2 separate regions of the Homo sapiens genome follow, and region 1 is linked to region 2. The links come from fine-mapping of genetic effects on gene expression. A gene starts in region 2. The other region holds a variant in brackets. All regions are shown on one strand. Distances are between the middles of the regions.

Region 1 (16,353 bases), 93 kb before region 2:
AGCAAGACACATATATTTAATTGCTATTTGAATAAAATGTTTGTGAAATCCTGGAAGCACCTTACAGGTTTATGAGACACAGCTTGAAAATCTCTAGTATAAACCATATGATTGACCATTATGGGTATGGATTAGGTTCAACCAGGCATAGGATTATCTCTATGGCAACTGTCGCCATAGCATCAAGCCTACGAGAGAGGTGGAAAATGGGCTTGTGAAGAGTGAAGAGGAATGCAGGGTAATATCTTCCTGGTCCCCATTCCAGGAAATCCAAGAGACTTGCTTTGCACCTTAAAAGAGGAAATCTACAGATGGTGATTAGGTAAAAATGAGCTTTTTGCTAAAAGCAGCCACATTTCCAGCATTCCAACCTATTTTCAGAAGGAGGCTCCTCTTAGCTCCTATGGGCTGATTCATATCCACTTGGTTCATCAATCCTTACCTGTTAACCTGCTCACATGCCCCAAAGTGCAGAGGGTCCCTGCTCCTCAACGAGAAGCAGGGACTCCCACTCAGGAGGGAATTGGCCTCAAGTTTCCCAGTATTTCCAGCCTCTAAGACCTATGGACTGGAGAGAAAGTTCATCTAACTAAATCATTGCAGCCTCTCCTTTTTCTCCTCCCCATTCCTAGTCGGACCCACTAGTGTTTTATTTACCAGGGAGCAGACCTGGACCAAGCTTCTCCAACTTTTTGTTTGTTTGTTTGTTTTTTGAGACAGGGTCTTCCTCTTTCACCTAGGCTGGAGTGCCGTGGTACGATCTCGGCGCACTGTAGCCTCGGCTTCCTGGGCTCAAGTGATTATCCTGCCTCAGTCTCCTGAGTAGCTGGGACCACAGGCATGCACCACTACACACAGCTAATTTTCTTTTTTCTTTTAGAAATGGGGTCTCACTATGTTGCCCAGGCTGGTCTTGAACTTCTGGGATCAAGCAATCCTTCTGTCTTGGGCTCCCAAAGTACTGGGATTCCAGGCATAAGCCACAGTGCCTGGCCCTTCTCCAACTTTAATGTGCACACAAGTCCCTTGGGGGTCTTGTTAAAATATAAATCCTGATTTAGTAGGTGTCATGGGCCAAACTGTGTCTACCCCTCACTTTTTTTTTTTTTTTTTGAGACAGGATCTGGCTCTGTTGCCCAGGCTGGAGTGCAGTGGCAGGATCTCGGCTCGCTGCAACCTCCACCTCCTGGGCTCAAGTAATTCTGCCACCTCAGCCTCCTGAGTAGCCGGGACCATAGATGCACACCACCACGCCCAGTTAATTTTTCGTATTTTTGTAAAGATGGGGTTTTGCCATGTTGCCCAGGCTGGTCTTGACCTCCTGAGCTCAAGCAATCTGCCCACCTTGGCCTCCCAAAGTGCTGGGATTTCATACGTGAGCCACCGTGCCTGGTCATACCCCTCAAAATTCGTATGTTGAAATCATAATCCCCCTATCTCAGAATGTGAATGTATTTGGAGACAGGGTCTTTAAAGAGGTAATTAAGGTTAAATGAGGTCATAAGAGTAGGTCCTAATCCAATAGGACTGGTGTGCTTATAAGAAGAGGAGATGAGGCCGGGCGTGGTGGCTCACGGCTGTAATCCCAGCACTTTGGGAGGCCGAGGCAGGTGGATCACCTGAGGTCAGGAGTTCAAGACCAGCCTGGCCAACATGACGAAACCCTGTCTCTACTAAAAGTACAAAAATTAGCCAGGTGTGGTGGCGGGTGCCTGTAATCCCAGCTACTCAGGAGGCTGAGGCAGGAGAATCGCTTGAATCCAGGAGGCAGAGGTTACAGTGAGCTGAGATCATGCCACTGCGCTTCAGCCTGAGTGACAAGAGTGAGACTCCGTCTCAAAAAAAAAAAAAAAAAAAAGAGGAGCTGAGGACAGATGCAGAGGGAAGACCATGTGAAGACATACGGAGAAGGCAGCCATCCACAAGCCCAGGAGAGAGGCCTCAGAAGAAACAAACCCTGCTGACACCTTGATCTTGGACTTCTGGCCTCCAGAACTGTGAGAAAATACCTTTCTGTTGTATAAGCCGTCCACTGTGTGATACTTAGTTATGGCAGCCCTAGCAAACTCATACATGTGGGTGGGAAGGCACTGAGCTTTCTGCATTTCTAACAAGCTCCTGGATGCTGCTGATTCGAGGACCACACTTTGAGTAGCATGGACCTAGAGAATCTGATTCCTTTTTATTTTATGACATTGTCAGCAGCTTCCTAAGTCATTAGCAGGTGGGGAGGAGGACACTTTTTCTCAAACTCTGCCTTCCTAAAGATAGCTAAGGTAATTGTTCTCTACATTTTTTGTGGCACTTTTGAAATTTTACAAATAGAGTGGCACCTTTCAGTTTCTGTAAGTGAATGCAGTGGGCTGGATATACCCACACGGCATGGCAGGCATAGTATGCAAATTGAGGCACTCATGCTGTGTCTACAGTGGGCAGTTGCCACTCTGTCCCCATGCTAGAATGTGGGCTTAATGTGGTCATATTTTCCAAAACTTCAAGAGCCAGAAATTTGAATTTTTATATTAAATCTCTAGATTTTAAAACTTTCAAATGTTGGCACCTCCATCTGCTTATTTTTGAAATAATGTGAAGCAAAGGAGCTCTCTGAGGTGGTGCTGGACATGTTCAATATTTGGACCTCTACCTTGTTTTAGGTGTATACACATGTAAAAATTCATCATCCAGGTATAGCATAAGCAAACATTCATCAAACTGTATCATTAAAATTTGTACGACTTACCACTTGTAAGTTATGCCACAATAAAAAAGAAAAAAAATCTGCATGGGAATGATACACATGACAGTTATTACCTCTGGGGGCAGAGGCAGGAAAGGAACAGGGTTGGCCTTATGTGTATTTCTAACATATTTCTTCAAAGAGATAGAGGGCTGAAGCATATAGGGGGATTTCTTTCTTTCTTTCTTTTTTGAGACAGGGTCTTGCTCTGTTGCACAGGCTGGAGTGCAGTGGCACAGTCATAGCTCACTACAGCCTTGACCTCCCAGGCTCAAGCGATCCTCCCACTTCAGCCTCCCAAGTAGCTGGGACTACAGGAGCATGCCACCACGCCGCCTGGCTAATTTTTTAAATTTTTAGTAGAGACGAGATATCACTATGTTGCCCAGGCTGGTCTTGAACTCCTGGGCTCCAGCAATCCTCCTGCTTTGGCCTCCCAAAGTGCTGAGATTACAGGTGTGAGCTACCTCGCCCAGTCAGGAGAAAATATTAACAGCTGTTTCATCTCAGTGATACTAGGTATCTGCTTTATTGTTTTCTGTGTGTTTGAAATATTTCATAATTAAAATCAACTATTTTTTAACATTAAAAAAATAAAGCCTGGAAAGACCAACACTGCATGAACCAAATAAAACTCCTCAGAGGCTACTGCACCATTCTCTTGGTCTCCCTGTGGGACTGCACAGTTGTTTATGTACGAATGCTTACTGCCCTGACCCAGGGCTCCTGTATCTTCAGTAAATACCTGCTCCCTCTTTGTCACGGGTGTGATGTGATGTCACCCCACCCACTCAGCCCAGCACCCTCATATGCCATTCATCACCAGAAGTGTGTCCTCGGTGCAGCCTCAACTGTGGGAAAAATAACGTTTATATATCAACCCAAATTTGAAGACACTCTGTATTGGGTTCATAGTTTAAAGCTACCAGAGAACAGACTTCTCTGATCCTGAAAGCAATTAAAGCCTAGTGGTTGAACTCACTGGGTAGAAGCCTGGGTTTTCCAGTTTACTAAATATATGCCCCTGGGAAAGTTAGTTTCTCAGCTTCTATTTCTTCACCTGTAAATTGGGAATGACGACAGTATCTACCTAGTTGGGCTTACGGGTAGATTTAAATTTGCTGAGTTATTGGTGCATAACTGTTCATTAGTTATTATTAAGTAATTAATACTGGGTTGATTTTACTTTAACTATCTTTCTTACATCATAGATTGTCTGAGGCCACACCAGTATGAAATCAACAGCTGGCCACCAAGTCTCAAAGGGAAGATATTTTCGGCTGGGTGTGGTGGCTCATGCCTATAATCCCAGCACTTTGGGAGGCTGAGGTGGGCAGATCACTTGAGGTCAGGAGTTTGAGACCAGCTTGGCCAACATGGTGAAACCCCATTTCCACAAAAACTAGCTGGACATGGTGGTGTGCTCCTGTAGTCCTAGCTACTTAGAAGGGTGAGGCAGGAGAATCGCTTGAACCCAGCAGCCAGGAGGCGGAGGTTGCAGTGAGCCGATATCATGCCACCGCACTCCAGCCAGCCTGAGGGATGCACAGCAAGACTCTCAAACAGAAAAAAAGGAAGATATTTTCAACTCTGATTCAAGTGGCAAATGTAATTAAACATTGTCAAGTGCGGGGCAGTACAAACTTCTTTCTGCCTTCAAGGAATGGATCTGTTTCTGTCCTTCATGAAAAACCCTAAACGGCCAAAGCAACCTTAAGAGAAAACAGAATTGCAGAATCTCCAGGTTGGTTCTTTTCCTCTGGCCTCAAACCTCAGGGGTAGAGCGTTGGCCTCTCCCCTTGGACAGCATGCTGCCAGGACAGCCTCCCTGCTGACATGCCTGCCTGGGCTGCTTTCTGGGGCTTCTTGCTCAAGGTAATCCTCCAGGAACAGCACCCTGCTGGCAGCTTTGCAACCCCAAAAGGGCTTTCGCAATGACTAATAAAGCCATAAAGGATGAACACAGATCCAAAAAAATTCATCCCCTGAAGGAATATGATTTCGACTACTTTTCACTTGGTGCTTCCTTGTCTTTTAAGCCACATGCATTCAATTTCTGTCTGAAATTCCAGTTCTCTCACGTTGCAGTCTCCGGAGGCCATTTTCTCTGGTAAACCCGTGAAACGCTCTCGGAGCCTGGAAAGGGGTAGAGGAGCCAATTACTCATGAAAGCCCATTTTCTCTGTGGGTTTTCCCTCACATTTCAGGAGATGTATTCCTTTAGCATTTCTGCTATCACCAGTTCAGACCCCCAGAAATCTCCTGAGCCCCCTTTTCCCCTCCCATTAATTTAAAAATCCTGTAGCCGTTACTGTGGTCTGCCTTGCAGAACCTGGCAGTTCACCTGGCCTTTTCCACTCTCCCCCAAATTGGTTACCTACCTGTTGGTTCTCTTACACTAATGTCCCTTGCCACTGTCCGGTTCAGGCCCTCCCCACCCCTCCCTGGATGACGGCAGCAGACGTGTCTCTCTGGTCTACCCGCCCCTGACTTCGCCCTCAAGCTGTGCTCCTCCACTCTGCTGCTAAGGTACTTTCTAAAATACAAACCTGATGCCCCCTCTCAGCTGAAAATCCTTTAATACTGACCTCCCCCAACCCGTTTCCAGATGAAATGTTCCCCAGTCCTGCTAGAGCTTCTGCATTGTCAAGAATAGCCAAATACCTGGATTTTTATGTGAATTCCCCAATCCTTTTTTATTTGTAAAGTTATTACATTTTACATTTAAAAAAATTATAAAACATTGCAACAAGTCTCTCACCCATTCCTGCTCCCCGATTCCCTATTTGAAGAGGCCATCACTGTGGCCGGGTTCTTCTGCAGTGCTGCCTTACACGCACACACACACACACCCTACAAACATACACATACACAAGCACACACTGCCTTTTTTTCCATATAGATGGTAGCCAATTTTTAAATGTTGGTATAAAGTTTTAAAACCCTGAGGGTCAAATAAAAACACTTTTGTTCCTCTGAGGGTCAAAGAAAACACAGGCATGTGCCTTATGATCCGCTGGGTTGTAGATCACACAGGCATGTGTCTTTTGATCCACTTGACTGACAGTTCCCTGAAGACAGGAAACTTTGTCCTGGAATCCTCTTCGGTACCTGGGACGATACCTTGCACACAGCTGGCACTCAATAAGCACACTGCCTGTTCATGGAAACTTTTCTTAAGCACCAGCACTGTGTCTAATGCTGAGTCTACCACAGACTACGGGGTGAACTGTGGTGTGCCCACCCAAGAGGGAACACTCAGGAGAGTTAGTTGTCTGGTTAAGTCTCAACTCCTGTGGAAACAACCAGAATCTGCCTGCTTCCCATATTTCCTGGTTACCTGGGTCAACAACAAATGGACAGAAATAGCAGATTACAGTCCCCGTTCTCAGTTCTCAGGCCCCCTAATGGGGCATCTGCTCGTGCTGACGGCCTAAGCTGTGGCAGAGTGCTGAGACCAGTACCTCCTCGCCAGCTGTCATTCCCAGGAGCGGAGCTTCTGGGTCTCGCCCTCCACCAGGACAAGTCAAGCCAGGACAGGACCAAAACCACAGGCACAGGCAGAGCTTGCTGACTCTTCCTGAGGCACTGGGCTGGGCAGGGCAGGGCTGGGCCAGCTGCTGCGATGAGTAAGGCATTCAAGCTTCTTCATGTTGGGAGAAGACTCATTGCTCAGGTGGTTTTGGAATCTCCTAGAATAGATTCTATTTGCTCACTCTCCTGAGTCCCCTGCTTGCTCCCACACAGCCTGGCAGGAACAGGGCCTGTGTTCACAGGTCGCTCTTCCCCTCTGGCAACAGGTGTCATGGTTGTGGGACAAGGTGGCATTTTCATTCATGATGAGGTGGACCCCACTGAGGAATTGCAACAAGATCTTACATATCTCTCCTCCATCCTCGGAGGCAGTGATGTCCAATCCTGTGTCAGCAGTGATGCAGGACAGGTGGTTCCTGTCACAGCACACTCCCGAGGGAGGGCCATAGGCAATGTCCCTGTAACTGTACGGTGACGTCCTCCCCTTCTCCCTCACTCGAGAGCATTCTGGCAGGGAAGGGCATGGGGAGCACGACCTTAACGTTCACCTTGAATGTTATTCTAATTGTGGTGCAGTATGAATCTTACTACCAAAACGCAGGTGGGTGAGACTTGTCATAGTCCTTTTTTTCTTTCTCTTTATTTTTTTGAGACAGAGTCTTGCTCTGTCACCAGGCTGGAGTGCAGCAGCGCGATCGCAGCTCACTGCAACCTCCGCCTCCTTGGGTTCAAGCGATTCTCCTGCCTCAGCCTCCCAAGTAGCTGGGACTACAGGCGGGTGCCACCATGCCCAGCTAATTTTTGTATTTTTAGTAGAGATGGGGTTTCACCGTGTTGGCCAGGATGGACTCGATCTCTTGACTTCGTGATCCGCCCGCCTTGGCCTTCCAAAGTGCTGGGATTACAGGCATGAGCCACCATGCCTGGTCCCTTTTTTTCTTTATTTCAAGTTACCTCAGCCTTGATGCCCTCAACCTCGAGCCTGGCATGAAAATTAGATGTGTGGTAACAGGATGGGGCAGGCTTCCCTTCCCTGGAAATATGTGAAAATCCAGGAGGTTACAGGGTACCTGAAAAACAGGGACAGGTCCACTCTTCTTCTGAGACCAAGACCGCTGTGGAAATCCCCGGGGCTCCAGCCTGCATGCACCTTCAGGGAAGGGCTTGTGGCCGCTTCCTTTCCAAGCTGACACACAGGAATCTTGCTGAAGCTGAGAATCCTAGGCTAAGGCTCTGACCTTCTGAGAGACACCACAAAACCTCTCCACAGAAGTCCTGCCATGAGACTGTCACAGGGAGCACATTCCCATCCGCGATGCCTGGGGGCCACCAATCTCCAATCCTTCCCCAGGCTTCGGGCTTCCAGAAAACATAAAGCAGATTGTCAGGCCAGGCGCAGTGGCTCAGGCCTATAATCCCAGCACTTTGAGAGGCCGAGGTGGGCGGATCACCTGAGGTCAGGAGTTCAAGACCAGCCTGGCCAACATGGCAAAACCCCGTCTCTACTAAAAATACAAAAATTAGGCGAGCATGGTGGCACACGCCTGTAATCCCAGCTACTTGAAAGGCTGAGGCAGGAGAATCGCTTGAACCCAGGAGTTCAAGCAATGAGCCGAGATTGCGCCACTGCACTTCAGCCTGGGTGACAGAGCGAGACTCTTGTCTCAAACAAAACCAAAAAAAAAACCAGAGAGTCTGCGCAAACAACTTCTGAATTCAGCCCCCAAGCCAAACCTCCCTGAGGCAAGGCTAGCTTCCAGCTTGGAAAGAAGAAATAAAATACAGGAAAAACAAAACCCACATCAATAGCTCAATATATTATTCTGCCACCTAACTCATATTAGAATAATCATTCACAATTTCAGTACAGGGTAACATTCAGCCCTTGTCACAAATGCCTGTGTCCCACATCAGAGCTCATGCACCCCGCTGCTGCTTTGCTCTAAAGCAGAGCTGAAGAACTGAAGGCTACTACTCTGTCCTCACCCTGCTTTATTTCCTTCAATCACAGATTGTCCTCAGAATAAAAAATAAATGCCTTCCTCCCCGAGGGAGCAATTTCTAGCCAAGAGGATGATCAAAAATGGTGTTGCCCAATGCCCCAATTAACTGTACCAAACCCAGTAAATGATGAAAGTGAAGCCTCAGCTTATGATGATAATTAAGCTATGTTGAGTCAATGGCAGCTGCTGTAAGACCACTTCTATTACTAAAACTACCTTCTCCACTTAATTAGCACTTTCTTAGAAGCATCCTTAGTTTTTCACATTAATCTGACTGGGGACAGTGTCACTGAACCAGAGCTAAATGGCATCTGGTCTATGAGAGGTCTGAGTCAATAATATGGTGGCTGGTTTTAAAAAGATTGCTGTCCTTTCTTTGCTTGATGACTTGTGATATAGAAAAAAGAAAAATAAATAAAACCATCATTGTTGTAACACATTATTATTTTTAATATTTGGGTGGGCATGTGACCAAGCACTTGGAGTGGCAGGTTTGGAATTTTGAGTTTTGAGTTCTTCCGGATGTTTATTCCAGCTGTGTATTAACTGGCACCTTGGCAGCTGCGCTCTGGGCTGGTTCCGCAGTAGATACCACTGCTAGAACACATGCCTGGCCGTCTGTAGCCCCTGCTGGAAGCAATGGCTACTGTCCAGGGTAGAACTTTATCTAAAGGCTCCCATGATGAACAGATGCTCAACACTACTCATACTAAAAAAACATAAATGCAAACAGAAACCAGAAATCATTTTCACCTATCAGATGGACATGGACTAAAAATACTGATAATACAAACTGTGGGTGAGCTCGTGGGTAAACAGTAGACGCATAAATCATTGATAGGAGTGTACGATGGATCAGTCTTTTTACTGGGTAATTTGTTAGTGCCTATGCAAATTTTAAAAAGCTCATGCCCCTTTTCCTGGCAGTTCCATTGCTAGAAATTTACCATACAAACATACTTTAAACATATACCAAGAAAAGAAAAATGTTTCCTGCAGAATTGGTTGCAATAGCAACAAATTGGAAACCAATTAAATGTTTTTTAATAGGGCCCTGGCTAAGTGCATTATGGAACAGCAATACGATGGAATTATGTCACCATTTTAAAAGATGCTGATTTTGCATGCTAAAGTGAAAAAGAAAAAAAGACTTCCAAAATATAGCATTAATAAAAATGTGAAGTGCATATAAAACGCTGACTTTTTTTTGGAAGGATACACAAAAATATTGTTAACATGGTTATTTTCCTAACAATATATATATAATCTTAAAAATATACACAGTAAGCTGGGCACAGTGGCTCACACCTGTAATCCCAGCACTTTGGGAGGCTGAGGCGGGCCGATCACCTGAGGTCGGGAGTTCGAGACCAGCCTGACCAACATAGAGAAACCCCATCTCTACTAAAAACACAAAATTAGCCGGGCATGGTGGCACATGCCTGAAATCCCAGCTACTCGGGAGGCCGAGGCAGGAGAATTG[C/T]TTGAAGCCGGGAGGTGGAGGTTGCGGTGAGGCGAGATCATGCCACTGCACTCCAGCCTGGGCAACAAGAGTAAAACTCCGTCTCTCTCTCTCTCTCTCTCTCTCTCTATATGTATGTATACATACATCACCTAAATATATATACACACACACACACACACACATATATACACACATACTTATATATATAGAGAGAGATATGTATATACACATATATATACACACATACATACACACGGTATTTGGGAAGTGGTAGACCATTCTTTCCCCTTCTTTGTACTTTTTTGGTATTTTTAAGACTAGCTCTTTAAATAATGATGCTGTATTTATATAAAAGCTGAAAGATATCTGTGAGAGACTGTATTTTCCAATGTGGCCAGGGTAATATTCCCGGACCTATATGCCCTTCTGGAACCTCATTACTCCCCATCAAGAGGTGGAGTTTATTCCTCTCCTCTCGAACCTGCATGGGACTGTGATAGCCTCAACAATTAGAAGGCCATGGAAGTGAGGCTGTGGCTTCTGGGGCTACAGAAAAAGGGCCATGTGGCTTCCGTGTGGCTCTTGCTATCTTGCTATCTCTTGGAAAGCCTGCCCTGGAAACCCAGACACCATGATGTGAGGAATCCCAACCTAGCCCATAATTCTGAGTCTGTTCACAGAGTCGTGCACACATCACCACTATCTAATTCCAGAACACGTCCATTAACCCCAAAAGGAGCCCTGTACCACCCAATCCCCACCCTCCCCATGCCTGGCCACACCATCTACTTTTTTTTTTTGAGACAGAGTCTCGCTTTGTCACCCAGGCTGGAGTTCAGTAGCATGACCTTGGCTCACTGCAACCTCTGCCTCCCGGGTTCAAGCAATTCTCCCTGCCTCAGTCTCCCGAGTAGCTGGAATTACAGGTGCCCACCAGCACGCCTGGCTAACTTTTGTACTTTTTAGTTGATACAGGGTTTAGCCATGGCCAGGTTGGTCTTGAACTCCTGACCTCAGGTGATCTGCCCACCTTGGCCTTTGAAAGTGCTGGGATTACAGGCGTGAGCCACTGCACCCAGCCTCATCTACTTCTTCTCTGTGTATGTGCCTATTTTCTGGACATTTTATATAAATGGAATCATACAATATGTGGCCTTTTGTGTCTAGCTTCTTGCACTTAATTTCTTCAAGGTTCACCATGCTTTAGCATATATCAGTACTTCATTGAGTAATATTGCATTGTATGGATAGCCCACCTTTTGTTTATCCATTAATTGGCTGATGGACATTTGGGTTGTTGCTACTTTTTGGTTATTAGGAATAATGCTGCTGTGAACATTTGCTTACAAGTGTTTGTGTGGCCATGTTTTCAATTCTCTTGCGTTGAAGTACTTTTACATCACCTAAATATTAAATGATAAATACATAATAATCAAATGATACTAATAACTGGTACACAATTAATTCTTATTAAAGCAAATTCCCTAAGAGCAGAAACCTGTTCCTTCGTGGTATTTCAGGTTTAATAAAGACCATTGGGTAGACCTGAAGTAATACAACAGCACTATTTCCAACCCAGATTTTTCACCAATTCACACTGACATTTTCTCAAATCAGTCTGAAAAGAGATTGTCTGTTTATTATCTCTATGCAAAAACCCAGGGCTATGCTGTGGTCTTCAAAATCCCTCTTTATGTTCCAAAATGAAAACTTATCATTTAAATTTGACATATAGGAAAGGACTAGAGCCTTTTCAGGAATTTGGAGTTTGATTAGAATTCTGGGGAACACAGAACCTTTTGCTGTACTGTGATTTACCTATTCAGGTTTATTTAATAAATACAGTAGAGGTTAACAGATGATAGTGCAAGTTCAATAGAAGTAGGGTGATTTAAAAACATTCTGGATTACAATGAAAACTCACTTATGTGGGAGTTTGAGCTCACATTTACAGCCTCCACCAGCAGAAATCATGCAAATAAGAACCACTGCAGAGTTCTTTGTCCACAGACACCATCTCCCTTCAGGATGGTCCTGCTTTTCCCCCAGCACCTGTGCAGGCATCTCTGGCGAGCCTTATCACAGTCTTTCTGAGTTTGCCTGTATGCTTCACATAAATGTAGTAAAAAAACAATGAGACGCTTCTTTGGGGCAACTGCTGTAGAGGCCACTAATGAGAAAGTGTAGATGTTTCCATCATGGAAAATTACAAGTTTACTTGGTTTCAGTCCTTGGCACTAAGTCTTAGGTTCCTTGTCACTGAACAGCCTTCTTTCCACTTGGCTTCTCTTGGCCAGCATCCTGGCACACCATCAGAGGAGAAAATAATGAGAAAGAAGTGTCTTACAGGGATGGGGAGCACTGGTGGCTTACCATATGGGCATAATCATGGCTCTTCAAACAAATCCTTGACCAGACAGTAGCACTATTTGTCTTCTTGCCTACACAAGCTACATGTGGGGTTCACACCTCCTGAAACATGTGCACACTAAGAGAACTGGAGAATGTTTGCTCAGTTTCCCTCCTTTTCAGGGGAACCCTCTGGCTGGTCTTCAGTACATGAGCAGTGACCCAGCTGTGGTTAGCTCCAGAGAGTTTTCTAAGAGTCCCTCATGTTCTTAGAGTTCTGATGTTGCTTAGAAGACAGAGGCCTACCTCATTCTTGGTTTACTCATGCTTCAGGTTACATGAATGTGGGGTGGGGAGTGGGAAATAGCTTTATAATTTTTGTAGAAATTATATAAGGAGTCAGGAGTTTGAGACTGCCCGGGCCGAGTCTGGCTTACACACCGGTTGAATTCTTGTCCAGCGCCCAAGAAGAATGAGAATGTACTGACAGTGGAAGAGTGAGCACTTGCTAATTATAAAAATGCCAAAGGATAGCTATGTGGGGTAAAAAGCACCTGAGATCTCACCATGCAGAGGTAACATGTGCATCCCTTTGGTGAGAATTTCTAGTAATCTGTCTGATGTGTATAATTATTCATCCAGCATTTCCCAAATATATTTGTGAACATAGTGTTAGTTTGTGTTCATCCAGGAGCCAATCCTGAGACAGAGACCGGAAAGCAAGAAATGCATCTGGGAGGTCAGCATGTGGTAAAGGGGAGCGGGGAAGTAAGGCAGGGAGGGTGAGGCTGGTGGTTATCAGGTTAGCTGCTCCTGTGGGTGGCTGGGTGGTGCTCAGTCCCACGGAGGAACTGTGGAAAAGAGTATGGAACGTGTGCCTCAGCAATGCTTACCTGAGGGCGAGGGAGCTGGGGCATTTACAGCCAAGGTGCTGTTGGCTGAGGCTGCTCCCTGGGGGTGTGACTTCTGAGCACTTCCAGCCTGCACAGCCTACTAAGACATGTGAGAAAGCACCCCCGCAACCACTGCCCCTAGGAAAGAGGCAGACACTGGCAGCCGGAAGGCAGCCAGACACATACTTATTGGTCGTATTGCTTAGGAGATGCGTCAGGCACTGTTCTAGGTGCTGGGGACATGGAAGGAAACAAAACAGAGAATTCTGCCATCATGGAACATTCTGTCTATTGGGGGAAAATAATAAACAGGGCAAGTAAGAAACCATGGAGTGTGTTAGGCAGTATCAAGTACTGTGAAGAAAAACGAAGTAGGAAAGGGAGTTCTGGGAAGGGGGACAGGAGATGGGTTGCAAACAGCGAAAGAGGAATGAGGGCAGGCCTCACTGAGAAGGTGACACTCAAGTAAAGGCTGGAAAGAGGGCAGAGGGAGGCACTTCACATGGTTACCTGGGAAGAGGAAATAGCAGGAGCACCAGCCCTAAGGCAGGAATATGCCGAGGCATGTGTGCAAGGCCCGTGCGGCTGGGCTGGGAGGGCAGGGTAAGCGGGGCCGTGCTGACCTCTGTGCAGCCTCAGGCTCCTACCTGGGGCAAGACCGAAGGCTGTAGGAGAGTGGGAGCATTAACAGGGTGGCAACAGCTGCTGTGCTGTGAACAGCCCAAGAGGGGCCAGGGCGGAAGCAGAGAGGACTGAGGAGGCCGGGGAGGAGGGTGAAGCAGTTAAGATTCTGGAGATATTCTGAAGGTAGAGCCAAAAGACTTGCAGACAGATTGGATGTGAGGTATGATAGAAAGAAAGAAGCCAATGGATTTGGTTTGAGCAACTGGATGGAGCTACCTCTTCCTGAATCAGGGACATTTTCCAAAGGAGTGGCACAGGATTTTTTTCTCGGTCACTTTGCAAGCCAGGGACCTCTGGCTGGTGACGGCCCACCTGGGCCTCGCTTGACCATGCTACCTGCTGCAGGAGACGGCCCGCCCACTTCACCCGCCTGGGCCAAGTATGGCTTCCACACTGGTTGAGTTCTTGCCCAGCACCAAAGAAGAATGAGAATGTGCTGACAGTGGAAGAGTGAGCAAAGCTGGGAGTTTTATTGAGTGATGAAACAGTTTTCAACAGAGAGGAGACGTGGGGGTGGTCCCCCTACCCAAAGGCAGGAAAGTCCCCTTAATATGGGGGAGTCTGGGTCTTTTTATGGGCTCAGAATGGGGGGAGGGGCAGGCTGTAGGTATTACTGGAAAAGGCAACATTCGATTGGTTAAGGCGTTATTCAGAAAGAACAATTGGGAAAGGGTGGGCAAACAGGAACAGAAGTTCCCACTCTGCGTGGTGGGTTTCATCCAGGACCAGCAATCTGGTCTTTTAGCCTTCAGGCTGATCTTTGCTTGAACGTGGGGTTTCATTTGGGACCCTCCCCTCTCTGCCTAGGCATTTGGCTGCCTCATGTCACTATCAGGAGCAAGCCTGGGGTCAGGAGTAATTGGGAGCCTGGCTTTGGGCCTGTGAAATCTGAGATGTCCATTAGAGACCTAAGTGGAGATGTCAGTAGCAAACTGAATATAGGGGTCTGCAGTTCAGGGAAGAGGCCCATTCTGGGTTTAAACTGAGGTGTTAGACAGCATGTAGATGGTATAATCCATGTGGCTGCTGGAGACACCCCAGTGAGCAAGCCAGATAGAAAAGAGGTCTGGGACTGAGTCCTCAGGGAGGCAGAGCACTGAACAAAGGAACCTGAGAAGGAGCAACCAGAGAGCTTGGTGTCCTGAAAGCCAAACGCGGAAAGTACTTCCAGGAGAAGGGAGTGGTCGACTGTGTGTGTGTATATATATATATATGTACATGTGCTACATTTATAAAGACCTCCATGCAGAAATATACACTCTCTCTACGGATATATACATACACACAGGGAGCTGTAGATAATGGTGTTATACTATAGAAACAGATCTATAACTCTATCTACTTCCCACTAAATCTACTAGGGACAGTGTGCCATGGCAACACTGTCTGTCTGCTTTCATCATTTTTTTCATAGCTGCATAGTATTTCATTGTGCCCAAGAACCGTAATTAACTTTTTCCCTATAGGTATTTTCCCCAATATAGAATTCTAGATTATACAGCAATGAACACCTTGTGCAACCATCCTTTCACACTTGTGTAGCCATCTCCTTGAGATAAACCCCTAAGAGCAGAGTTGCTATAGGCAAGGGTATGCCCTTTTTACCTTCTGATTCTGAACTCCTTCCTGGGCAGCCCCACTAATCAGATGCATTCAACGTGGAACAGCTGCTGACCTCAAGGAAGAACTGCCCAGGACATCATTCCAGGCAGACTCTATGCTAGGGACCCTTCTGTACACAGAGAAGATGCAGGGCAGCCACTACATAATCACTGTTAGAAATCAGCAAAGGTTTGCATCATTACAAAAGTCTATGACAGGAGGCAATCTACTGGTTCTAGCTCTCAGCCTGACGTATCGAGCTGCAGCGGACTTCTGCGTATAAAGACTGTCCTGTTTCCACGGAGAGAGGAGCAACTCTCCAGGCCTAAAGGATCTCCAGCTGAGCCACGAAGAGCTTATCACATCAAGAGCAAATGCAGCAGACGAAGGCAGTGCCTTCTGTGAAATGACTGTAATTAACTCCAAATCTTTCTCCACACTTTATTTTTGCTGGCTGGATTTGTCATTTTGCTGTCAGAACAGGCCTACAACATACCTCAGATGTTTTTCCTTTACCTTGTCATTCTGAGCAAAAGCATGACTCCATCACCTGTCTGGGCACATACCGAGTCTTTGTCTGGATGGTGTCAGCACATCCTGCACACTCAGCGGCAACCCTGAAAATAACATCTACCACCTGCCAGGCAATTGGCTGACTGCCTCCGTGATCTTCAGGGGCATCGAGGGACAATGTATTTAGTCATGCACCTCTGTAAGTGCAGGGAAATGTACTGGGACACCTTTCGATTCCCAAGGAAATAAAAGGAAAATGACAAACACATAGTCACGCTGTGGATCCCTGTTTATTCCCATCTCTGGGCAGGCCTGTAAAGAGCATCGACCCAGGTCTCAACCCCACTGCTGGTAACTGAGCCACAGAAACTGTAAGCACTCATCCAGGGAGAACTACTCCCCTAAACCGGTTCTTAGCCAGCAAGAGAGGCCCACAGGAAGGTCTCTGATAACCTGAAGTTTTGAAAAGCTTAGAACTGTGTGATCAGGCCATATGCCCCTCAGTTCCTGAATGTTCACTACCCTGTGGTGTCCCTTTGCCATGGAAGAGACTCCAACCACACACATCAGTTA
Region 2 (16,353 bases):
TCTCCACTGTCTCCCCCATTGCCTGTGGCAAGCATTTCCTATCTTACCAGGTAAATTTCTTAAGGCTTACCCCAAGAACAGTGTTCAGTGGAAATAGTGTTCTCCATGAATTTTGATGGATACTGTATGTCCTTCTTTTTGAAATTCCTAACTGCACTTATTTGCTCTTCATTCACCATTATGTCAGAAAAATGAACACAATCACCATATAATGCCACTAAAATTAGGGGCACAATAAAAATCGAATTTTACAACTGCAAAGGTTCTTAGAGATCACATGGTCATTTTGATGAAGCAAACTACTACACATTTATAGTAACTTACCTTAGGAATTACCCCATTGCCTAGGTCATTCTGAATTGTTTCATCTCCTTGAAGACACCTCTGTTAAACATGAAATTCCTGTGTAAGACACAAAGTGCAGAGAAGTTAGTGACTTGCCCAATGTCACAGGGTTAACAAGAGGACAAATAATTTGGAGCTAATGATCAAAATGATCATATCCAAAATATGTCTCATGAAACAAAGAACAAATGTAATACATAAAAGTAGGGGGCAATGGGGTAGCACAGAGGCTTTTATCAAGCCCAAAGTGTCGGTTGCCAGATGATGCTGTGGTTGGGTTACTCTCATTTAGTCAGTGTCTGAGTGAAACACATTTAATATTGACCATTCAAATACTTAAAGTTCAAAAGATGTTAGGGAGTCTAGATTTTTAAACTGGAATTGGAGTACCACTTGTAAAAGAAGGATGTCTATCTAGTTTTTATTTTCTAATTTCCCAAGATTTGGATGCATTAAGCCTTCTCATCGCACTGCCAAATGTTTATGATTCATTTTAGCAGAAGTTACTAGGGATGAGGAGAAGGTGGGAGTATGTGTGTGTAACAGTTCTGTATGACGCAGAAAGAGAAATGAATTAGAAGGGAGGATATTTTTCGATTCCTTTTATGAAATAAAAAAGAGCTTAAATCAGGTGACTTGTTTACTTTTTCTTGTTTTCAAAATAGAAAAAAGAGAGACCCAAAACCTGATTTGGAATTTTCTGAATGACACACAATTCTATTTCAGGAGAATAATTGTCATAATCACAGGTTAGTTACCTTCTTAAAATATCTAAAAAATTCCTTTCTAAAAATATAACTCCACAGGGACAGAAAACTGTATTTACGTCACAGAATACTTGTATATCAAAGGAATTTGCTACTTCCATCTAATCTACACAATAGCATTTAAAGAACTAACTAGTAAATTTATTGTCTAAATAAGGAAGGGGAAAGGAATTGACATGTAATTTCTTTCACTAGGTGTAAAGTTTTATCATTTTCATTTATTCATTCAACAATAATGTATGGAATAGGAAGACACTGGGCTAGATGTAGGAGGTACAAGGATGAGCATGACTGTCCCTGCCCTCTAAATGCTTTCCGTCTAGGAGAAACATACACAGCCTCCCATACATATGCAGATATATACACGCTCACATACAAACACATTCACACATACCCATACACACATATTCGTACACATACACACGTTCACACAATATGTACATGCATGCTCACACATGCATACACCCTCAGTACTATACACTCACACATATACACACATATGTATTAACATATGAACACATATATACATATATATCCACATATACACACTCACATGCATACATACATACATACGTGGGAGCTGAGCTGACAAAGTGGAGACAGTGAGTAGAATGTTTTCAATTTAGAGGAAGGAGAAAGACATAGCATTGGCAACGATCCTGTGAGACGACTATGGCAAAATCTCAAGGAGGCTAAGTAGACCGTCTTAGTGGAGTTGTTAAATACTGGAGAGTTAGGTTTTCCGAGATCTGGATTCAAGTGAAAATCTGCCATTACTACCCGTGAGGCCATAACCAAGTTACATAACTCACTGCCTTAGTTTCCTCTCTTTTACATAGGGATTATCATAGTACCTATTTCATGAGGTTGCCATGAGGTTTAAATGAGATGATGCATGTAAACCACTAAGCACAATGTACTAAATTTCCATTTATTTATTTATTTATTTAGAGATAGGGTCTCTGTGTTGTCCAAGCTGGAGTGCAGTGGTGCTATCATAGCCCGCTGCAGCCTCAAACTCCTGGCCTCAAGCTCCCGAGTAGCTGGTGCATAACATCACACCCAGCTAATTTTATTTTTGTAGAGACGAGGTCTTGCCATATTGCCCAGGCTGGTCTTAAACTCCCGGCCTCAAACGATCCTCCTGCCTAGGCCACCCAAAGTGCTTGGATTACAGGTATGAGCCACCGTGCCCAGCCTAAATTTCCAGTTTGTGATGATATCCTTATTATTACCAGAGAAGATTATTTACCAGGTAAATTGTGAAGATAGTATTCCTCTCACCAAGCTGCTTAGTGAGAAAATATTAAACTATTTTTAAGGTGGGTAGAGCCAAAAATTATGTATTAAATGAATTTATTTGCATACCAAAGTATAATCCAAAAAAATTTTTTAAAAAATGAATACATGATCGCTGCTTCATCTTTACTTTTAAAGTTCTAAAAATTCAGGAAAGCCAAATTATCATTTATAAATAACACAAACATCTACATGTCATGGCCTTCACTGGGAATATCTGATCTGACTAAATGACATCACACCCAGTGTTACTAAGTAATTTCTGTGGCTATAACTTCATGGTGAAAATATATAAGCTATTATTAACTCTGTGATCATTTCATCAAAGTATGTTAGACTTGCTCATGTCATTTATAGAATACTGACAAACATTATTTGATATTATTCGTTGATATGATTAGGCAATTCATAAAATAAGAAATAAAAGTGGCCAATATACAAATGGAAAAGTATTACATCATTAATAATCAGATAATTCTAAATTAAGATAAGTTATTTTGGGGCTATTAGCTTGGTAAAGATTAATGGATAGGCCAGGTGCGGTGGCTCATGCCTGTAATCCCAGCTCTTTGGGAGGCCGAGGTGGGCAGATCACTTGAGGTCAGGAGTTCGAGACCAGCCTGGCCAACATAGTGAAACCCTGTCTCTACTGAAAATACAAAAAATTAGCCAGTTGTGGTGGCAGGCGCCTGTAATCCAAGCTGCTTGGGAGGCTGAGGCAGGAGAATTGCTTGAACCCAGGAGGTGGAGGTTGCAGTGAGCCGAGATCATACCACTGCACTCCAGCCTGGGTGACAGAGCAAGACTCTGCCTCAAAAAAAAAAAAAAAAAAAAAAAGATGGATAATACCTTGTTGCTATTGAGGGTGTGGTGAAATTTGACACTCTCATATGTCAACATTTTTCTTTTTCTTTTTTTCTTTTTGAGACAGGGCCTTGCTCGGTCACCCAGGCTCATGTGCAGTGGCACGATCGTGTCTCACTGCAGCCTTGACCTCCTGGGCTCAAGTGATCCTCCCTCCCGTCTCAGTCTCTCATGTAGCTGGGACTACAGGTATGAGCCACCATGTTTGGCTAATTTTTTTATTTTTTGTAGAAATGAGGGTCTCACTATATTGCCCAGGCTGGTCTGGAACTCCTGGGCTCAAGCAAACCTGCTGGCTCAGTCTCCCAAAGCGCTGAGATTAGAGGCATGAGCCACCATGTTTGGCCACCAATCTTTTTAGAGGCCAGTTAGGCAATACAGAGCAAAAACATTTTTAATATGATCTTTGACTCATCAATTCCACTTCTTGAATTGTGTCTTCAGGGAATATAATCAGACAAATACACAAAGATGCTTGTATATGCACACTAACTGTGGAATTGTTTATGATGACAAAAAAATTGGAAACTACCTAGATGCCTGTCATGCCTGTCAATACAGAAATGCTTAAATAAATTATGGTATAGTTAGACACTAGAACTCTGTGCAGCTATTAAAAAAGGATTAGACAGATCTATTTGGGATGGCTTGGAAAGATGTCAACGATCTGTATTGGATGATGCCAGTTTTATATCTTAACAGATATACATGCGGCCAGGTGCAGTGGCTAACACCTGTAATCCCAGCACTTCGGGAGGCCGAGGTGGGCAGAATACTTGAGGTCAGGAGTTTAGGGCCAGCCTGGCCAACATGGCAAAACCCTGTCTCTACTAAAAATACAAAAAATTAGCCGGGCTTGGTGGTGTGCGCCTGTGATCCCAGCTACTCAAGAGGCTGAGGAGGAGAATTGCTTGAACCCAGGTGGTGGAGGTTGCAGTGAGCCGAGATCACACCACTGCACTCCAGCCTTGGCGACAGACGGAAACTTCATCTTAAAAAATATATATATATATATATTTATATATATATATATATACACACATACACATACATACACACAGAAAAAAACATATATAGGCCTAACTTTTTCAAAGTAGCTTTATTGAGGTATAATTTACAAAGCATATAATTCACCCATTCTAAGTGTAAAATCATCACCATAATCTAGTTATAAAACCCTTTTTTATTGTCCCCCAAAATTCTCTCATGCTCATGGGCTTAACTTTTTTTATTTGGCCATGTATTATGTTATTAAAAGGAAAAGCTTTTACAAGAGGCTCATTTCCATTTCTTTTTTTCATAATATATGAAAAAATTTATGATAATATTTCTATTTCTTTTTTTTTTTTTTTGAGACAGGGTCTAGCTCTGTCGCCCAGGTGAAGTGCAGTGGCACGATCTCAGGTCACTGCAACCTCCGCCTCCCAGGTTCAAGCGATTCTCCTGCCTCAGCCTCCCGAGTAGCTGGGATTACAGATGCATGACACCACACCCGGCTAATTTTTGTATTTTTGTTAGAGACGGGGTATTGCCATGTTGGCCATGCTCATCTCAAACTCCTGACCTGAGGTGATCCACCCACCTCAGCCTCTCAAATTGCTGGGATTACAGGTGTGAGCCCCCGTGCCCAGCCTATTTCTATTTCTTAATGGTGTCAGAACTTTATCTTTGCTTTGCTAGTGACTTTTTAAAAACCACTTATTGAATTATGATTGACATACAATAAGCTGCTCATACTTAATGTATATAACTAGATGAGCTGGGTGATAACTGTACATCACCACTGCCTATTACATAAACATATCCATCATCACAGGCTTAACTTTTAACAGTGGTTAGGTCGAGGGTAACTATGAGTAGGGGGGAAGGAAGGAGGACAGAACTATAGACAGCTTCCTAGTTTATAATTTCTGTATTATTTGAATTATTTACAACAAAAATATACTATCTTTCATTTTTATTTTTTCTTCGAGACAAGTTCTAGCTCTGTTGCCCAGGCTGACGTGCAGTGGCACAAACATGGCTCACTGCAGCCTCATCCTCTTGGGCCCAAGTGATCCTCCTGCCTCAGCCTCCCCAGTAGCTGAGACCACAGGTGAGTGCCACCATGCCCAGCTAATTTTTCTGTTTTTAATTTTTGGTAGATGTGATCTCGCCATGTTGCCCAGTCTGGTCTCAAATTCCTGGGCTCAAGAAATCCTCCCACCTCAGCCTGGGATTATAGGTGTGAGCCACCCCACCCAGCCAGTAATACACTATCTTTTAATTGACAAAATAGTAAAGTCTTTTCTATTTTGAAAAGAACAAAATAAGGAAACAGACATATACCCATTGACCGAAATCTACTTTTGGCAATTTATCCTAAGGAAATAATCAAATATGTGGAAAAAGATTTGTGTACAAAGATATTTATCCGTATTTTATTAAAAACAGAGGAATTATAATCTAAATATCTCATAATGGAAGAGAACAATTATTAATTGTATTGAAATATGCGAAGTGCAGGATGCAAACCTTTTTATGTAATACAACCTCAACCATGTTGAAAAAAGTTAATGCACAACCAAAAAAATCCTGTTTTGAAATATAAGTTCTTATCAATGGTTGTGTCTGGATAGTAGAATTATAGTACTTTTAATTTAATTTTATTTTTTAAGCATTTCATTTTCTCCATAAATGATAATAATTACAAATAATTATAGTATTGTTTTCACAGGTCTATACATTTGTCAAAACATATAAAAGTGCACACTTGCAGCAAACCACCATGGCACGTGTATACCTATGTAACAAACCTGCACGTTCTGCATGTGTATCCCAGAACTTAAAGTATAATTTTAAAAAAAAGCAAACAAGTACTAGCAAAAAAACCAAATGCACACTTTAAATATGTACAGTTTATTGTATATCAATATATTGCAATAACACTTAAAAAAATAGAAGGATCTCAAGGAATTGAATCATCTTAAGCGTCTTACTGGAAGGGGGGTTTTGCTATGCCATTTTGGGGCTGAAGGGCAAAATGACTGGGGGGGCAGACATTATATAAATAGCAATATATACATACATTGTCTCTGCTCCAGATACCGCCATTCATTCATTCATTCACCAGATCTGCCTTCCTATTATATGCCAGGAATGTTGCCGGGTACTTGGATATCTTGATGAACAACAAACCACTGGCCTGAAAGAGCTCCCGTCTGGTGGAGGAGGGGAAGGTAGGTCACCACCTGACGGATTCCAGCCAACGTCCACACTGCCCCACCAGGGAGTGCTGCCCAAGGGGGCTGGAGGCAGATCAGGAAGTGGGGGCCTTAGCTGAGGTGGAGTCACCAAGAGTGACACCAGGTTTACAGTTGTGGAGGTGGCCAGAAGTTAGTTTTACCCTCAAGGGAGTGTCGCAGTCATCAGTTGAGAAGTGGGGGCCCGGCGCGGTGGCTCACGCCAGTACTTTGGGAGGCCGAGGCGGGCGGATCACGAGGTCAGGAGATCGAGACCATCCTGGCTAACACGGTGAAACCCCGTCTCTACTAAAAATACAAAAAAATTAGCGGGGCGTGGTGGCGGGCGCCTGTAGTCCCAGCTACTCGGGAGGCTGAGGCAGGAGAATAGCGTGAAGCCGGGAGGCGGAGCTTGCGGTGAGCCTAGTTCGCGCCACTGCACTCCAGCCTGGGCGACAGATCGAGACTCCGTCTCAAAAAAAAAAAAAAAAAAAAAAAAAGAAAGAAAGAAAAAAAAGAGAAGTGGTCTTAAACAGTTTTTATGTATCTGTGTCTATCTTGCCTGCACACTTAAAACAACAAGAGTAAGAACTAAGATTGAGCGTTTACGGGTGCAGGGGCCGCGCAAAGGGCTTCCATCTATTGTCTCATTCACAACCTTCTGGTAGGGACTATTAGGATCTTCATTTTACGGCGAGGAAACCGAGGCTCGGAGAGGTCACCTGCCCAAGGTCACAGATCTCTCTCTCCAAAGCTCAAGCTCACAACCACCACACAAACTCCCCTCTCACTGTACCTGGGGCCCGTCTGAGAGCGAAAAAGTCCGCTTTCAGGTCCCAACCCTAACAGGTCCGGCTTTCACTCCACAGTTTTTCCCAGATCCAGAATGGAGACAACATCCGCTAGCACAATCAACAGGGTCGTCCCACGGGGGCCGCTCCATCAAGGCCGTGGACTGACAGGATTTGGGGCTTGGAGGGCAAATGAGAAACAATCGTCAGGGACCGAAGAACAAATGCGTCCATCACACCAGCCCCCCGCACCCCGAGCCCCGTGCTCCGCTCACGCGAACCCTCGGGGGCAGCCAGTCTGAGGGACGTAGCGCGCGTGCGCGGGGCCAGAGGGGACGCCCCCACGCGAGCGCGCGGTGAGCAGGGCGCGTGACCGGGCGGGCGCGCAGCCGGGAAAGCGCGCGGGCGCGCTACGGAGTCGGCGTCGGCGCGCGCTCCAGGCCGAGGCTGTGTGGGCTGGGGAGGGAGACAGGCGGCGGCGGCGGCGCCCCAGACCCGAGGGGACGCGCGGGCCTTGCGCCGCGGGAGCGGACGGCGGCGGAGGAGACCCTAGGCTCGCGGCCCGAGGCGGGAGGGCTCGGCTTCTCGACTGCCCGCCTCCGAGGCCGCCGGCCGCTTCTCTCTCCCAGAGTGGCCGCCGCCCCTGGAGACTCGCCGTGACACGGGCCTAAGCCGCCGCCGCGGGAGTCCTGACCGCTCGGACCCGTCGGATCAGGCCGGGTGGGAGCGAGCTTGCGGGCAGGTGCCGCTCCCGGAGGGTGGGCCGGAGGCGAGGCGCCCACCGCGCGGCTCGCGGGCCGGGCTCGGCGGAGGGGCCGCTCGCGCAGCACCCCCACCGCGGGCCGGAGCCCGGGTCGCCGCCCCGCCTTCTCCCGGGACCGCCCGGCCGGAGCTGCGGGGGCCGAGGGACGCCGCGCCCGCCGCCGCCAGCCGGGCTCGCGCGGGAGAGCAGGGAAGAGAAACTTTGCCTTTTATTGTTTTTAGTCCTTAAGTGCAAGGAACTCTGTGTTGGGAGGAAAAATGTCCTTCTTCAATTTCCGTAAGATCTTCAAGTTGGGGAGCGAGAAGAAGAAGAAGCAGTACGAACACGTGAAGAGGGACCTGAACCCCGAAGACTTTTGGGAGATTATAGGAGAACTGGGCGACGGAGCCTTTGGGAAAGTGTACAAGGTAAGAGGGGGAAAACGGGAAGTTGTACTGCGAAGGTAAAACAGCCACTGGCCTGGAGTGGCGGGAGGACTTCTGCTCCCCTGGTCCTTATCCTGTCCTTCTTTTGACTGTTACGGTTCGATGCAACTTTACTTGGCTGATCATCCAAGGAGTAGCTAAGAAGTCGGGTTTACGGTGGAACAAAATGGGGCCTGGATGGAGTTTAAAGAGCGATTGGAAAAGGAGACAGGGTTATAAAGTCTACTCTTTCAAACTTCAAAGGAAATGAGAGTGTTCTTTAATTTATAGGAGGGGTCTGGTTGTGCCCTTCAAGTATTTTAGAATGAGAAACTCATTGCACTTTGCAGTGGATTTGTCTACTGACTGCATTCGCGTGCATGCTTGTACTCCAACAGTTCTGTTTTTAGGGTCCAGTATATATATTTGGTTGTATCTAGAGCTAATACAGAACTAGTTGGGATCAAAGTGATTGCTACTTGCAGTCTCTTCTTGAGTTAGTTGCTTGACAGCATACTATAAAATAGAATGGAATTTCTGACAAAATTTCCAAAAAACCTTCATGTGGTACTAGTTTTAAATATATTTATGGTAAGCATTGACTAGAAGTCAGTATCAGCGCTTAAGCAGTTAAAAACACACACGCATGTATTTATTTCAATAGAAAGAGGCTTGGCGTTTCAACCTGAAGGCATTAATGTTAACTATTTAATATCTCCTAAGGAACATATGAATGATGTCATTGGAGTATTTTCATCCTGAAGGGCGAATTTTTTATGAGACAGCGTTTAGGGGAAGGACCCACAGGGTTGCCTAGAAGTGAAAACGTAAGAAAATAACTTATGTTTATACAGGACTTTGAAGTTTTTAAGTACTTTCAAATAATTTGGCCCCCACAAAAATCTTGTGAGGTAGGCAGGTCAGTATTAGTATCCACATTTCACAGATGAAGATATTGAAATTGTTCACAGTCACATGAGTCTCAGCCTAGACTTGAACTCAGGTCTTCTGAGCCCATATTTAGTATTGTTTTTTATTTTAACAGTCACTGGTAGAAATGAGAGCATTTTGCCTACTACTTTCTTTTTTTTTTGAGACGGAGTTTCGCCCCTTTTGCCCAGGCTGGAGTGCAATAGCGCGATCTCGGCTCACTGCAACCTCCCCCTCCCGGGTTCAAGCGATTCTCCTGCCTCAGCCTCCCGTAGTAGCTGGGTTTACAGGCATACGCCACCATGCCCGGCTAATTTTGTATTTTTAGTAGAGACAGGGTTTCTCCATGTTGGTCAGGCTGGTCTTGAACTCCCGACCTCAGGTGATCCGCCCGCCTCGGCCTCCCAAAGTGCTAGGATTACAGGCGTGAGCCACCGTCCCCGGCTGCCTACTACTTTCTAAGCACCATTACACTTCTGCCTCTGCCCTGCCTCAAATGCATCTTGTCAAAACCCCAGTCCTCATTCTTTATCCAGGCTAAAATATCTACTCCTCTCTGTGTGCTTTCAGAACACGTTGTTCACATGGCTATTATAGCACTTGTCACTTATTACAATTAATATGTTTATGTTTCTATAATAAAATTAAGGGCCAAAATTATGATACATATTTGGGTTCATTCACTGCCTTAGCGTATAGTGATGTGTCTGTTTATTTGTTGAAATGAAAGAATGTGTTTTGTCTGCATATGAATGCTGTCGTGGAAGCTATCATAGGCTGTGGAAGTTGGCAAAATAAGCTTTGTTATTTGTGTGGAGGGTAGAGTATGGGCTTCAGCAAGAGCTTCATAAGATGCAAGGCTTCATTGTAGTGGGAAGATCACTCCTGGGAATCAAGAGTTGTGTTTTAGTGCTGGCTGTCACAAACCAGCGTTGTAATCCTGGACAAAACACTTAACTTCTCTGGACCTCCGTTTTCTTAGCCATAATATTAACTTTCTTAGGAGTTTAGATTCTTTCACCCATTAAAGTTCTGTGAGTATGTAATTAGCCTGGAAAGGCAAAAATAAATGCTCAAGGCACCTAGAATCTTGTAGTTAGAAGGTGGTAGGTGATTATGGGCAGTTTTCATGGTGTAAATAAGTTTTATCGAATATAAACAGCTTAGTAGTAAGAGCACTGGCTCTGGAGTTGGAATATAACTTAGCTCTCTCACTCAATAGCAGCATATGACCTTGAGCAAGTTTCTTATTTGTCCTGTGCCTAACTTTGCTCATCCATAAGACATCCTCAGTGTGAGGATTGAAAAAGATAATATAAGGCACATGGAAAGGGCTCAGTAAATGGTAGAAATTACTGTTATTACATTTAGAGCTCATAGATGCAAACTTTGGGATGAGATAGGGAAAGGAACCAAGAAGATAATAAACCATTTTGTTGGTTTCTAATGGCATGGGCAGACTGTGTGGAGATACTAAAGCCCTGTGTTATTCTTTCATGACACTTTCTGCAAAATGTGATCTATCTTCCTGTACTGAGACATTAATTGAAAAATTTCTGAAGAACAAGAGTCTTATTTCATGTAGTTATTTGAGCACTATAAAATTGTGTCAAGGAGAATTTCTGTGATCTTGATGACTGTATTTTAGTATGATATTTGAAGAGCACGGGCTGGCACTATTTTTTCTTTTTTCATTTCACTACTCTCTGCTTCTAAGGAGTAGGGTATGAGTTTTTTAAAAAATAAAATTTGAAATTAAAACTTATCTGTCTTCTTATGGCCTCTTTTTTCTAAAAGTTTTTGTTTTTCAAGATTCCATAGAAATTGAGGATTTATAAACTTCCTTATATTTGGAAGAAAAAGCTATGGAACCTTAACATAGTACGTAGTAGTATGTAGTAGAAAACTGTTTATAAACTTGATTCTAACTATCATTTGCTTACAGAAATTAGTAACTGTTACAAAGATTATATTGTAAATAGAGATGAGGTTGAGTATCCCATTTCCCAAATGCTTGGGACCAGAAGTGTTTTGGATTTTGGAATTTTTTGGATTTTGGAATATTTGCATTATACTTAGTTATTGAACATCTGAAATTGAAAATGCTCTAGTGATCATTTCCTTTGAACATCATGTCATGTTAGCACTCAGAAAGTTTCAGATTTTGGAGCATTTCAGATTAGATTTTCAGATTTGGGATGTGTAACCTATAGGTAATCATGTTGTGTATTTAGTCTGAGTCATTCTTCCATCGTGTACTTGTTGTATTCCTTCCACTCAGTCCAGCACTGTACACATTTAACAGTTACTTCCTTGCCTGAAAAAGCTTCACTACTTTAAATTTATTTTCTCTTTTAAAAATAGTATTATTTGACATATAAATGAAGATATGTAATATCCTTCACAATATTTTATCTTTGGGTTTCTCTTTTTTTGTTGTTGTTGTTTTGTTTGTGTTTTGTTTTGTTTTGAGATGGAGTCCCTCTCTGTCGCCCAGGCTGCAGTGCTGTGGCGCAATCTCGGCTCACTGCAACCTCCGCCTCCCAGGTTCAAGCAATTCTCCTGCCTCAGCCTCCGGAGTAGTTGGGATTACAGGCACGCACCACCGTGCCGGGCTAATTTTTTGTATTTTTAGTAGAGACGGGGTTTCACCATGTTTGCCAGGGTGGTCTTTCCTGACCTCAGGTGATCCGCCTGCCTTGGCCTCCCAAAGTGTTGGGATTAGAGGCATGAGCCACTGCCCCTCACCCCCTGCTGGATTTCTCTTGTTTTTAACAGAAAAAAAAGAATGACATAAGATTATGAATTGAATTGCATTTCTAGAAAGCTATTTTATCTATTAAACCAGTTGAAACTAAACTCTTGGCTGTGTGCTGGATGAAAGTAGTTTTTATATGACAACTGATGGCTGTGTGCCTTTTAAAAAATAGTAAAATATATAATCTTTGTATTAAAAAGTATGGAAACATATACATTTAGCAGATAATAAAGTGAATTATTATTAACAACTGTCAGTGTCAAGGAATTCTGCTAACATCCGAGAATCCCTCTTGCCTCCTTTCTGTATCTAATATCTTCTCTCTCCCTAAAGGAAACCACTATCCTATCTTTAAGTTATTCATTTATTTGCTTTTCTTAATCATTTACTATCTAGGATTATATCCCTAAATGTTATAAATTTAGTTTTGTATGCACTTGAACTTTATATGAATGGAATCATATTGAACATATTCTTTTGTGTCTTGCCTCTTTCAAAGTCAGTATTGTGTTTGTGAGGTTCATCTTTATCACATAGAGCTGTAGTTCTTTTTCGTTGTAGCATTGTATTCTATTATATGATGATATCACCAATTATTTACTATTGTACAATTAATGGATATATTGGTTGCTTCCAGTTTTTGGCTCTTACACAAAACGGTAGTTGCACATATACATGAGTTTCACTAAGAGTTAATCCAGGAATGGAATTGCTAGGTTATAGGGTAGTGTATCTTTAATTTTACCAGATGATGCCAAACTAATTATACAAGTTTACATTCCCACCAGCAGTTGAAGAATTTCCTTGCCCTGCCAGGCGCGGTGGCTCATGCCTGTATTCCCAGCACTTTGGGAGGCCGAGGCGGGCGGATCACGAAGTCAGGAGATCGAGACCATCCTGGCTAACACGGTGAAACCCCGTCTCTACTAAAAATACAAAAAATTAGCCGGGCGTGGTGGCAGGAGCCTGTAGTCCCAGCTACTCGGGAGGCTGAGGCAGGAGAATGGCGTGAACCCGGGAGGAGGAGCTTGCAGTGAGCCGGGATCGCACCACTGCACTCCAGCCTGGGCGAAAGAGCAAGACTCCGTCTCAAAAAAAAAAAAAAATTTCCTTGCTCTGCATCTTTGCTAACATTTAATATTGTCAGAATTTTAAAGTTTTGACAGGCTGATAATGTGTTACATTTCTCATTGTGCATTTAATTCACCTTTCACAGATTACTAAAAGTAATTCTTTTAATATGTTTTTGGTAATTTGAATTTCTTCTTTTGTGTTCAAGTCTCTTATCCATTTTTCTCTTGAAGTCTTTGTTTGTATGTTGATTGTGTGTGTGTACAATATATGTGTTTTGAATTTTAACCATTTGCTGGTGATAGTTATTGCTAATATAGTCTCATTCTGAGACCTGTCTTTTCATTCTCACTGTAGTGTCTTTTTATGAATTCTTTAACATGGTCCAATTTGTTAGTTTTTTCCTTTACAGTTGATGCTTTTTGTGTTATGTTTAAGACATTTCTTCCTAATGTGTGATCATGAAGATAATCTTCTATATTATCTTCTAAAAGCTTTATGATTTTGCTTTTCTTTAACAATTAGATCTATAATCTACCTAGAATAGATGTTTGTAAATGGTATGAGGTAGGGGTCCAGTTTCATTTTTTTCCCCATATGGATACACAATTGTCCCAGAACTATTTGCTGGGAAGAAAAATAATTCCCCACTGCTCTGCAGTGCCCTGTTATGTAGCATGTGTCTGTTTCTGCATTCTCCGTTCTCTTCATTGATCTATTTGTCTATTCCTATACCAGTATCCCACTGTCTTAATTAGGAAAGAATTAAAATAAATTTCTGCTGCTTCTTCAACATAGTTTAGTAGTATTGTTGGCCCTTAGGGCTTCTATGTACATTTTCCAGTTAGCCTGGTTGAGTGCCACAAAAAATCTGTGTTTTTTTGGAGAGATTTCATTGAATTTATAAATCAGTTTTGGAAAAATTAACCTCTCTTTGATATTGAGTCTTCCCACCTGTGCATGTTTTATCTCTGTTTAGGTCTTTTTTACTATCTTAATAATGAGTTACAGTTTTTTTCCCTAGAAGTGGGAACACAAACTACTTCAAGGATGTTTTAAATACTTTGTTTTTCCTGTTAGAATTTCCTCCTTGTTTTTGTTGTGTACAACCTTTAGTAGCCTTCTGAGAAAGGATCCATGGAAAACATATTTTTTAAGAACTTGCCTGTCTAAATATGTCTTTATTATAAGGTCACAACTTAATATATATAATTCTAGTTCAAAAGTAAGTTTTTAAAGAATTTTTAAGATTTAGAATTTGTTAGTTTTGAAGACTTTCTTCCATTCATTATCTTTTGGCTGCAAGAGTTGCTGTTGAATGTCTGATGCCATTTGGCTTCCTGGATCCTTTGCCATCTTTTTCTCTTAATAGCCTTTAGGATTTTCTTTTATCCTCTGTTCGTGGTGATGTACTTTGATATAGGTCTTTTCTTCTTCTTTCGTTTTGCTGTGCTCTTGGTTGGTCCTTTCAATCCAAAGACTTATGTCCTTCAGTTCTGTGACATTTTCTTGTATTATTTATTTGACAGCCTCCACCCACCACTTCCCCCAATAATGACTCTTGCCATGGTCTTAAGATTCTTCATGTCCCTAAATTCAGGGGACACTTACCATCTTACTTGACCTGTCATTACCATTTGAGATACTTGGCCATTCTTTCCTTTAAAAAGTTCATCTTGGCCGGGCGCGGTGGCTCACGCTTGTAATCCCAGCACTTTGGGAGGCCGAGGCGGGTGGATCACGAGGTCAGGAGATCGAGACCATCCTGGCTAACACGGTGAAACCCCGTCTCTACTAAAAATACAAAAAAAAAATTAGCCGGGCGTGATGGCGGGCGCCTGTAGTCCCAGCTACTCGGGAGGCTGAGGCAGGAGAATGGCGTGAACCCGGGAGGCGGAGCTTGCAGTGAGCCGAGATTGCGCCACTGCACTCCCGCCTGGGCCACAGAGCGAGACTCCGTCTCAAAAAAAAAAAAAAAAAAAAAAAAAAGTTCATCTTTTGGCCTTTTTTTTTTTTTGAGATGGAGTCTCGCTCTGTCGCCCAGGCTGGAGTGCAGTGGCGCGATCTCGGCTCACTGCAAGCTCTGCCTCCCGGGTTCACGCCATTCTCCTGCCTCAGCCTCCCGAGTAGGTGGGACTACAGGTGCCTGCTACCACGCCCGGCTAATTTTTTCTATTTTTTTTTTTTTTTTTTTTTTTTAGTAGAGACAGGGTTTCACCATGTTGGCCAGGATGGTCGCGATCTCTTGACCTCATGATCCACCCGCCTCGGCCTCCCAAAGTGCTGGGATTACAGGTGTGAGCCATCTCACCTGGCCCGTCTTTTGGCTTTTAAGTCACCATACTCTTGATTTTCCTTCCACCTCTGTGTCTGTTCGTCACACTCCTTTGCTGGTTCTTCCTCTTTCTGACTTTAAGGTGTGGGAATTCCACAGGGCTTGGGTATAGGCCACCTTCTCCTTTTCTTAAGAGAACCGGTCTTCTCCCATGGCTTCAATTACCATCTAAGTGCAATTTCTATCTTTACCCTAAGACCTCCCTTTTGAACTCCAGATCCACACATCCAACTGTCTATTAGAGATTTCTGCTTGGATGTCTCACAGATACCTTAAACTGCAAGTCCAAAACATGAACTAATTCAGCTCATGATGTCAGTCACAAATTTGCTCCTTCTGTCTTCCCACTCAGTAATTACCACTTCCATCTACCAGTTGCATAGGCCAGAGACCTAGAGGTCATTTTTAACACCTGTTGCTGCCTTCCCCGCCAAACCTAATTAAACACCAAGGCCTGTTAATTCTACCTACTAAATATTTCTCAAAAATACTTCTTTCTTTCTTCACTGTCATTTCACTAGTCAAAGCTGCTATCATCTCTTAGACTACTGCAGTCTTATTGGTATGTTTTTGGGCTTCATATAATCATTTACATGATTCTTTTAATCCTGTAATCATTTAATATATTCCTTTGTGTTGGGCTTCTTTTGCCAAACATTATATGAATGAGTTTCATCCATGTTGTTGCATGTAGTAGTAATTTGATCTTTTTCTTTGCTTTATGGTATTTTATGAAATATTATAGTTTATCCATTCTGTAGTATTTGGATTGTTTTCACTTTTTGTATGTTAAAAATATGATTCA

Alleles and levels. Positions count from the first base shown, and alleles are read on the strand shown. Sizes are in standard deviations (SD) of each study's normalised expression.
For the expression in cerebellum of the gene that starts at base 7,702 in region 2, T is the high allele of the variant in region 1 and C is the other (small effect, 0.33 SD a copy in GTEx).

What was found.
Region 1: its variant is fine-mapped to the expression of SLK in cerebellum (GTEx, PIP 0.93).

Annotation. Positions count from the first base shown.
Region 1 is chr10:103,866,022-103,882,374 of GRCh38, forward strand. It overlaps STN1 (STN1 subunit of CST complex), which reads right to left. Exons shown (of 10, transcript NM_024928.5): 10 at 11,548-16,353. Among named protein-coding and RNA genes, the nearest start is that of SH3PXD2A, 19 kb to the left of the region's middle. The variant C/T (reference allele first, on the strand shown) is at 9,758.
Region 2 is chr10:103,959,439-103,975,791 of GRCh38, forward strand. It overlaps SLK (STE20 like kinase), which reads left to right and starts at 7,702. Exons shown (of 19, transcript NM_014720.4): 1 at 7,702-8,457. The coding sequence starts at 8,308. It overlaps LOC102724351 (a long non-coding RNA gene), which reads right to left and starts at 7,607. Exons shown (of 5, transcript XR_007062282.1): 1 at 6,343-7,607; 2 at 325-402. It also overlaps the pseudogene RN7SL524P. RefSeq lists silencers at 7,564-8,023, 8,064-8,113, 8,124-8,223 and enhancers at 11,573-12,074, 12,075-12,574.